2 separate regions of the Homo sapiens genome follow, and region 1 is linked to region 2. The links come from fine-mapping of genetic effects on gene expression. A gene starts in region 2. The other region holds a variant in brackets. All regions are shown on one strand. Distances are from middle to middle. Region 1 overlaps PRKG1 (protein kinase cGMP-dependent 1). Region 2 holds the start of DKK1 (dickkopf Wnt signaling pathway inhibitor 1).

The links. PIP is the estimated chance that this variant, and not a neighbour inherited with it, causes the effect. A credible set is the group of variants that fine-mapping cannot tell apart.
Region 1: its variant is the best candidate, but not a certain one, in a credible set for the expression of DKK1 in sigmoid colon (GTEx, PIP 0.54).

The regions. Positions count from the first base shown.
Region 1 is chr10:52,280,472-52,284,872 of GRCh38, forward strand. PRKG1 (protein kinase cGMP-dependent 1) reads left to right here. Exons shown (of 18, transcript NM_006258.4): 13 at 318-459; 14 at 1,682-1,845. Among named protein-coding and RNA genes, the nearest start is that of PRKG1-AS1, 31 kb to the right of the region's middle. The variant A/G (reference allele first, on the strand shown) is at 2,325.
Region 2 is chr10:52,312,141-52,316,541 of GRCh38, forward strand. It overlaps DKK1 (dickkopf Wnt signaling pathway inhibitor 1), which reads left to right and starts at 2,141. Exons shown (of 4, transcript NM_012242.4): 1 at 2,141-2,537; 2 at 2,783-2,945; 3 at 4,155-4,295. The coding sequence starts at 2,295. It overlaps PRKG1-AS1 (PRKG1 antisense RNA 1), which reads right to left and starts at 1,988. Exons shown (of 6, transcript NR_038277.1): 1 at 1,494-1,988; 2 at 1,258-1,345.

The sequences.
Region 1 (4,401 bases), 32 kb before region 2:
TGCCTTTTTCGATTGTAGTGGGCTGTTGAGAGGAAGACACTAAGTACATGAAATGTGTTGTGTTGAACTATTCTTTCAGCCCTTTCAGTAAGTGAGATTTAACTATTCCATTCATAAAGACAGAGAATTCCTTAACTTGATCCTTGAATGCTTCAGAAAACCCAATGTAATGGCAATCATGTAACATTTAGCTAGCAGGACAGTGATCTCTGGGTTAAATTTTGGCAAAGGAATATAGTGAAATGAGAAAAAAAAAATAAAGCCATATTACAGAAATTAATTTTTTATACAATTTTCATTCCATTTCTGCACCTCAGAGGTTCGTTTGAAGATTCTACAACCAGATTTTACACAGCATGTGTGGTAGAAGCTTTTGCCTATCTGCATTCCAAAGGAATCATTTACAGGGACCTCAAGCCAGAAAATCTCATCCTAGATCACCGAGGTTATGCCAAACTGGTCAGTGCATTTCATACGTGCTTTCTGCCCTGCAGATTAAAAATATTTGTTTATAAAACTGTGTTCATTTGCTAATATGAAATCTGAGTTTTCCTTTTCAATGTTGTAACTTTCTTAAAAGCAGATTTTAGCATTACACTTTTCAACTGAATGTTCTTTCAAATGATGCATCAGTTATGAAAAATTAAGTTGGCTAAGTTTGAATTAACAATACTCTGGCAAAAGATGCTTTTATAAGCATGAGAAAACACACTTGCTGGCATGTGTTTACATGCCCAGAAGTCCTTTTCTCCAGTCAGCTTTTTGCCATTCATAAGCAATGGGTTTTTATATTATGGAAAACCATAAATCATTTTAATATTTTAGATTTAAGAATAATGCTAATGGAAAAAAATGTGCTTTACAGGCAATGCTAGCCAGGTTATGTAATAGTAATAATAATAATGGTCAAAAGCTGTAAAGATTTACCATAGAAGAGAAGTTCTTTTATTTACAAATGCACAACTTTTGTTGGATCTGTTAACAGCTTGATTCCATTTTTAAAGTTTTCAGAATTGTTATTCAGCATGTGGTTTTTAGAGAAATCAAATCAGTGGCAGTTTTTTATTTGTAGTTTCAACCAAATCGTTTTAGAAAAAATATATTTTCTGCAGTCGACACTCTTCCTTCAAAAGAGTTCCAGAAAAATGAAGAATACATTATAATTTTATTTCTGTTTATGCTTACTAAGGGCAGAGTCATTGGTCCCAAAACTATCTTACTCACTTCCTGCAAACATAAAATAGCTTTTCAAATAATTAATACTAAATGAATTGTCGCCTTCATTAAATCCAGCAGAAATCATGTATATTCTGGGAAAGATGTTAAGTAGGCCCAACTGGTCGTTAACAATTTTTAGGTACAGAAGAGATTCTGTGTTTACACTCCAACCTCCATTAGCATAAAAGAAGAAAAAATGAAAACTATATTCGGAAAGGAAGATTTACCTTTATTTTTAATGATGTGAATTTTATGCTATACTCAGGTGTCAACTTTTGCCATTAAAACTGAGGTGCATCAGGGAGACTGTCTTTGCAATATAGACTATTCTTTTTGGAAGACAGAACTATAAAAACATACATGTTTTTAAATTATTATCATCATCAGTGTGCTTCAAAATAACTTATTACTTTAAAACTTAATCATAAGGAGCTTAAGTATCTTGTTTTTCTCTCTTTGTAAGGTTGATTTTGGCTTTGCAAAGAAAATAGGATTTGGAAAGAAAACATGGACTTTTTGTGGGACTCCAGAGTATGTAGCCCCAGAGATCATCCTGAACAAAGGCCATGACATTTCAGCCGACTACTGGTCACTGGGAATCCTAATGTATGAACTCCTGACTGGCAGGTATGGATATTGATAGGGAACTGCTGATAAAAATAGACCAGCATGCAGCTACACACTCCTGCTTTTGTCACTTGGATTAGACCATCTTAAAGTACTTTTCACCATATCTTGGTACCACAGTTTAATTAGTTATACAGATGACCAGGAATTCATAATGTAAGGTATAAAATAGTCCAGGCTAGGGCAACCACCTGAACACTAACTTTTGGTCTCATTATTGCTACTTCTTTTTTACATATGTGAATGTGGAAGGATATAATGTCCTTCTGTGAGCTATCTTAGCCCAGTCATTTAGCCAGCAATGAAACAGGGGAGATGATAATCATATAAAAATATCTAGGGTCAATTTTCTATAGAAGTAAGAGGACCTGTTAGCAACTGTTATATCTAAATGAAAGGTGACTGCTTTGTACATCTTTCCTGTAATGTTATTATCATCAACTCAAATAGGCACTAGGGACACCACAAGGTATAAAACA[A/G]ACTTTAAGATCCTCAAGGACCCATATTAAAAGAACAACAAATACACTACCATGACATGTGCTAAAACAGTGAGTGACAGGGGTGTTATGACCTACAGATTTCAGGACAGGGATGGGTTCGTAAAGAGGCTTTTGAAGAATGAATATAAGGCAGCTGTGTCTTGAATGAAGAGTAGGACTTAGATATAGAGAGCAAGAAAAGGGTATTCCAGGCAAATAGGCATGGCTTAAAGAGAAAGGCAATAATCGTCACAGACATGGAGAAGGTTCATGTAAAAAAAACAGGAACAGTCATCTTTTGACGATCATGATTGCTGCACTTGAGTGTTTGGACTCCATCTACAGAGGGAATCATTGAGATTTTCTGACAAAGGTTGAGTGATGTGTGTTGTGGTATTTAAGGAAAAACAAGTTGGCAGTAATAAGCAAATTGGAAGAGGAATAGGAAGCTAGTTTGAAGATTGTTGCAGTAATTTAGTTCTAGGACACTGAGAGCCTAGAGTAGGGCAAGGGCAATGGAAAAAAAGAGTAATTGTGAGGCAGGATGTGAAGAATTACTTAAGAGGACTTAGTCACTACAGTGAACATGAGAGGAAGACTGAGGACTTTGAGCACAGGGTACTCTGTGAGGATTCAGTGCATACATGAAACACTTAGAAGAGTGTTTCGCACATAGTAAGCATTCCATGAATGTTAGCAGCTGCTACTACTACAACAACGACAGTCATTGCCAGAAATAGTTGTGTTTTGATTTTATTTTTATTTATGGGTATTTTACATTATTACCCATAAAGTTTCTCTATTGACTTCAAATAAATTATGTGTGACATAATCCAATTTTGTTCAGTGTGGATTGTTCAATTTTGATCTTGTGGATGGAGGTAAATTATTTTAAAAGTATGACCAATTAAGTAGACCTGTAAAGATATGAAAAATTTGGACAAAGTAGAAGGTTAAATTTAACATATGTGTGTGGATGGATAGATAGGTAAATAGGCAGAGAGATAGATAAAAAGGTAATCTTTCTAGTGTGCTTAGAATTGCTATAAGAACCAATTATATAATAAATAGAAGAAAACTAAATATTAACTATTTTTGAGGAAGTAAAATATTCACCTATAATAACTAGACTAAAATATTAAACATGACAACTTATATTTCTCCTTAAATGTTTAGACATTTCTCTACAATCATTGTTTATTCATTAAGTAATAAGGTGAAAATGATTAAAACCTTAATCTTAAAAACTGGCATATACTAAACTGTAAGAAATAATTAATAACAGAAAAACCTTTAATCCTTTAAAGTAGAAATTGCACAGGTTACAATATCTGACTGGAATATAATAAAACTTGGAATTAATAACAAAGATTTAAAATAAAAAGTCTAAATACTTGAAAATTTAAAAAGCATTTTTCTAAATAACCTCAAGGACATAGAAATTACAGAATAGCAGAGCAGCAATAAAAATAAAGCACTATAAGTCACAATTTATGTTGTATTTTCAAAACCAAACTTAATTTTTTTACCATAAATATATATATCGAAACATTATGATTAAACATACCTAAACTTAATATTCATTTCAAGAAATAACAAGACAGAAAGAATTTTGGTCAAAGACAACAGCATTAAAAAAATCTTTACTTTTCCTTTTCTACCCAAAGAGATGATGGTGGTGGTAAGAGACGGTGGCCAGGGGTGGGGGTGGGAGAAGGCAAGAATAAAACAAGTAGGATGATCTTTAGTTACAAATAAAGTTCCACAAAACACACCTGCCAAACACTATGAAGTATGGCATGTGACTAGGAATGATGCTTGGACCACAAGCATGACTCCAAAGTATTTTGGTCCTGAATGTCATATCTAATGATCTTCGATAGTAATAATGACATTTAGAGGACTGGCTGGACCTTGAAAAAGCAAAGACTGTTCATGCAGAGACCTAATTAAGCACTACAGAATGAAAGAGGAACTGAGGTGAAGGAAGATTCATACAAATGTACCAATTCTGCCTTTTAAGGCTTATAATGTTGGTCAGTGAAGCAGGGAGTGAAAAGGGGGAGAGAGGCAGTGA
Region 2 (4,401 bases):
TGAAGCCAAGCTTTTAATGAACCAAGTTCATTAAATGTATTAATCATATACTATCTCTTCAGAAAAAAAGGCAAGAGATTGGCCTTTAGTGTGGCACAAATATATTTCTAGATTCAAAATATTTAAACAGGTTAATAGGACTAAAAAGAAACATTTTCAACCTTCTGATTGGCAGGCGGATTTTTCTCTACGTTTCAAAGTCATTCAAACTTAACACAGCTTGCAGATTTCCTAGTACACTGAAGGTGCTTAACGCATTGATTCCTGACAGGATAATTTCCTGGACAGATGGAATTTGGGATGGGAAGGACACTAATATAACTAGGGTACCATTCAAGAATTGTTTAGATGATCTTCTTAATATTACCTTTGAAACTGAAGGAACTAGAACACAGACCATAGTAAATTGTGTTTTAATTACTCCTTCTCCCAGTAAACTTTAGGATTTTTTTACTTTAAGATTGTCACTGGCTTTACTTGGTGGTGGCCCCAGTTCTGACTATAGTAGGTCAGCATGTGGAGTCATTATAGACAGCCTAAATCTATACAGCTTAGAGGAAGACAAAATAAATATATCTTACTCTTTTTTAATTCAATAGTGATTATTCAATCATCTCTCCCTTTTCCAAACTCACAAAACAGTTGCTTATTTTCTGACACTTATAATATCAACCTGTTTTTAAAAGAATTATGTATGCTTTTATATTTATTGCTATAATTTTATTGTTACTACATCTTTTATTATTACTGTAATTAGAATAAAGAGAACTTTATTATTTAAAATGAGAGCTGTGTCTCATAAATATTTGTATTCACTGTGCCCCTCCCCCCACCACCCATCTCACCAAAAAATTTAAAAAATAAAAATAAGGTAACAACCCAGAGGGCAGCCCAATGCCAGGGCTCTAGGCTTCCAATAAGTTTTTGTTGAATTAAATAGATCATTTCCCATTTATAAGCATGACATCATTCTTATACACCAGCCTTACTTTATTATATCCACACACCAATTTCAATGACGTCAAATTCACTTTCTAATTCACTTTCAGCTCTTCTTCTCCTCAAGGTTGTTTCTTTTCTCCCTAGAAAGGGTATTGCGTGGTCCCGTGCAAGGTAAGACTTGGGAGCAAACCCTGCATTCGGAAGCGTTGCGATGTGATATACTAATGAGGAAGTCAGGCGCTAAGCCCTAAGGGTTTCTTATTTCTCCACATTAGCCCACCACTGAGAAGGGAGAACCGGGGAAAGGCGACTGACCTGGCACGTTGGACCCTGTCCGCTTTGGTCCCGGCCACTTTGATCTCACGCGTCTGCCTAATCAAGTTCATCTACCGCCGCGATTGCCCTGATTCAAAGAACAACATTAAATGGTTTGATTATCGGATGGTCATTTCCCTCTTCCCTCCACCCCTGATCTAATTTCTAAACGCCAGTCTCTCGCCTCCCTCTCTAAACTTCCCATCAAAAGAGAATTAGCTCTTCTTCCTTCTTACCCTCGTTTGATGTGCAAATTTCCTTCTCTTTGCACATTTTTCTCGCAGTGGCGGGGGGAGGTGGGGGAGGAGGGCAACTGAAGGACCTCAAAGCCGGGGATCTAACTCAGATCTGCAAACTGCGACTCTAAAGGGTTAATGAGCAACTTGCACCCGCCACCTGGCCCTCTCAGAGGCGTCTTGCTAGAGCCATTGAATTACAGACCGGTTTGTATTTAATACTGAATATGACTTGTGTGCACAGTCAGCGAGTATTGGCATAAAGGAGAGGGGCAAAAAGTGCTTTTGCAGAGCCTATCACCCCTCGGCTCTGTAAAGTATTTCAGATCCGGATAATTCAACCCTTACTGCCAGGCAAGGGCACCCAAGTTCCCAGAGTTCCTGCTGCCGCCTGCATTTATTAAAGTCGTCTGCTATAACGCTCGCTGGTAGCCTTCACCCCGAAGGTGAGCCGGGCCAGCCGAGCGACTAAGCAAGGGAGGGGCGGGGTGAAGAGTGTCAAAGGCCCCCCTTCATGTACACAAACACACCCCCTCCCAGCCCCTCCCAGCGCTTTGAAATCCCATCCCGGCTTTGTTGTCTCCCTCCCAAGGGGCCGGAATGCTCCGGGCCCGCGGTATAAAGGCAGCCGCGGTGGCGGTGGCGGCGCAGAGCTCTGTGCTCCCTGCAGTCAGGACTCTGGGACCGCAGGGGGCTCCCGGACCCTGACTCTGCAGCCGAACCGGCACGGTTTCGTGGGGACCCAGGCTTGCAAAGTGACGGTCATTTTCTCTTTCTTTCTCCCTCTTGAGTCCTTCTGAGATGATGGCTCTGGGCGCAGCGGGAGCTACCCGGGTCTTTGTCGCGATGGTAGCGGCGGCTCTCGGCGGCCACCCTCTGCTGGGAGTGAGCGCCACCTTGAACTCGGTTCTCAATTCCAACGCTATCAAGAACCTGCCCCCACCGCTGGGCGGCGCTGCGGGGCACCCAGGCTCTGCAGTCAGCGCCGCGCCGGGAATCCTGTACCCGGGCGGGAATAAGTACCAGACCATTGACAACTACCAGGTGAGAGGGGTCGGGCACTCAGAGGATGCTCTGACCTTGAAAGGGTCCTATCTGGAGACGAGGGAGTAGAACGTGCTGAATGTGTGCGGTTCAGGGAGCATTTGGTAACCCTGCATTTGGGAGCAGTGGGCAGTAACAGGTTTTGGAGAGGTGGACAGATAAGGACTGTGATCAGCGCCCGGGTCCAAGAGGGCGGGTACCTGGACGTCTGGGTGCCTCACCCTCTCCCCGAACCCTTCCCACAGCCGTACCCGTGCGCAGAGGACGAGGAGTGCGGCACTGATGAGTACTGCGCTAGTCCCACCCGCGGAGGGGACGCAGGCGTGCAAATCTGTCTCGCCTGCAGGAAGCGCCGAAAACGCTGCATGCGTCACGCTATGTGCTGCCCCGGGAATTACTGCAAAAATGGTGAGTCCTGAAAGCTCCCTTTCACACTAAAACTGTCCAGCCTTTGAGCGTCTATGAATTGGGCGGGGGCGGGGGGTTGGGGGGGGTGGGGGGAGAAATCTCCGCCCTGAGAACACTGCGGCGCCACCTGCAAATGGGTGTTCAGCATGCAGGATTCCGCTGAAGTATCTTCATTGCAAGTGTTTAATCGGGAAGAAGAGAGAAGTTGGGAGGTCTCTGAGGTCCTTATCTTCCTCCGTGTCCCTCAATGATTCAATACAACGGTTCACCTCGTAGTGGACTCTTCCATAAAAATTTGTCTGGGGAGAACCTTGAGGTCAATTGAGAAGGGGGATGATGAGGAGGACGATGGGATCATACAGATATCAAAGAAACCAGCTTTGGCGTTCAGCTGTCCTTTTCATTTTTCTTATTGTGATTCTCACAGTTTTGCCAGACTGGCCTCGCCTTCTGATTTTTGCTGAAACTGTTGTCAGCCAGAGGACTGATTTATCTGCATTGGCCATTTTTAAGAGAGATCTTGGTACCCTCACAACTTGACTTCTCCATCCTTCCCCCTCCCTCTACCCTCTGCTGCCTTAATATAAGTACTCCTCCCCCCAACCACAGATCCACTAACTTTTAATTTTTCAAAAGGTGGATTTAGACAGCTAAAGAGGTCTCCAGAAATAAGCTAACAGGGCGACGACCCTCCTTAGGACCCAGCAGTACTCCAGGATGAACTAAGTAAATCTCTGTAATATAGAAATTACACAGTAAAGTAACTGGCCGGTGAGATTGCAATGTTCCAGGCAGCTGGAATTGCATTTGCTTAACTTAGTCTGGTAGGACCCATATAGCACCAGGGGCAGAGAAGTTATTTTTAAGAACATTTTTAAAGTGACTGAGTTTCTTTTTCTTACCCCAAAGGTAATATTAAAATGGGCAGAAATCTCACTTGCCCCTACCACAGTTGGTGGGAAAGTATTTTAAATGGCTATACTGGGGATATTACCTATGACTGACTGTATACAGTATACACATTGGTGCTTCTGTCCATCTGGAGAGTTTTGCATTAACAGTAAAGAGGAAGTTTGGCTTGTGTTTAAAATGATGTCACTGCAATGAAGTATCTCAAGTTGATGCTGGCATAACAGACTGCCACTGTCACAGCTGTTAGCAGTAATGCATTACAACCCTGAAGTTAATCACTATTTCCTGCTTCCTTAGGAATATGTGTGTCTTCTGATCAAAATCATTTCCGAGGAGAAATTGAGGAAACCATCACTGAAAGCTTTGGTAATGATCATAGCACCTTGGATGGGTATTCCAGAAGAACCACCTTGTCTTCAAAAATGTATCACACCAAAGGTAAGGATGTTAAGACTCATTCTTAGCACATCAGAAGTGTCTTTTGAATTATTTTAGTGAAACGATGCAGGTTTAACAGTAACTATGTACTTTTTTCCTACTGTCT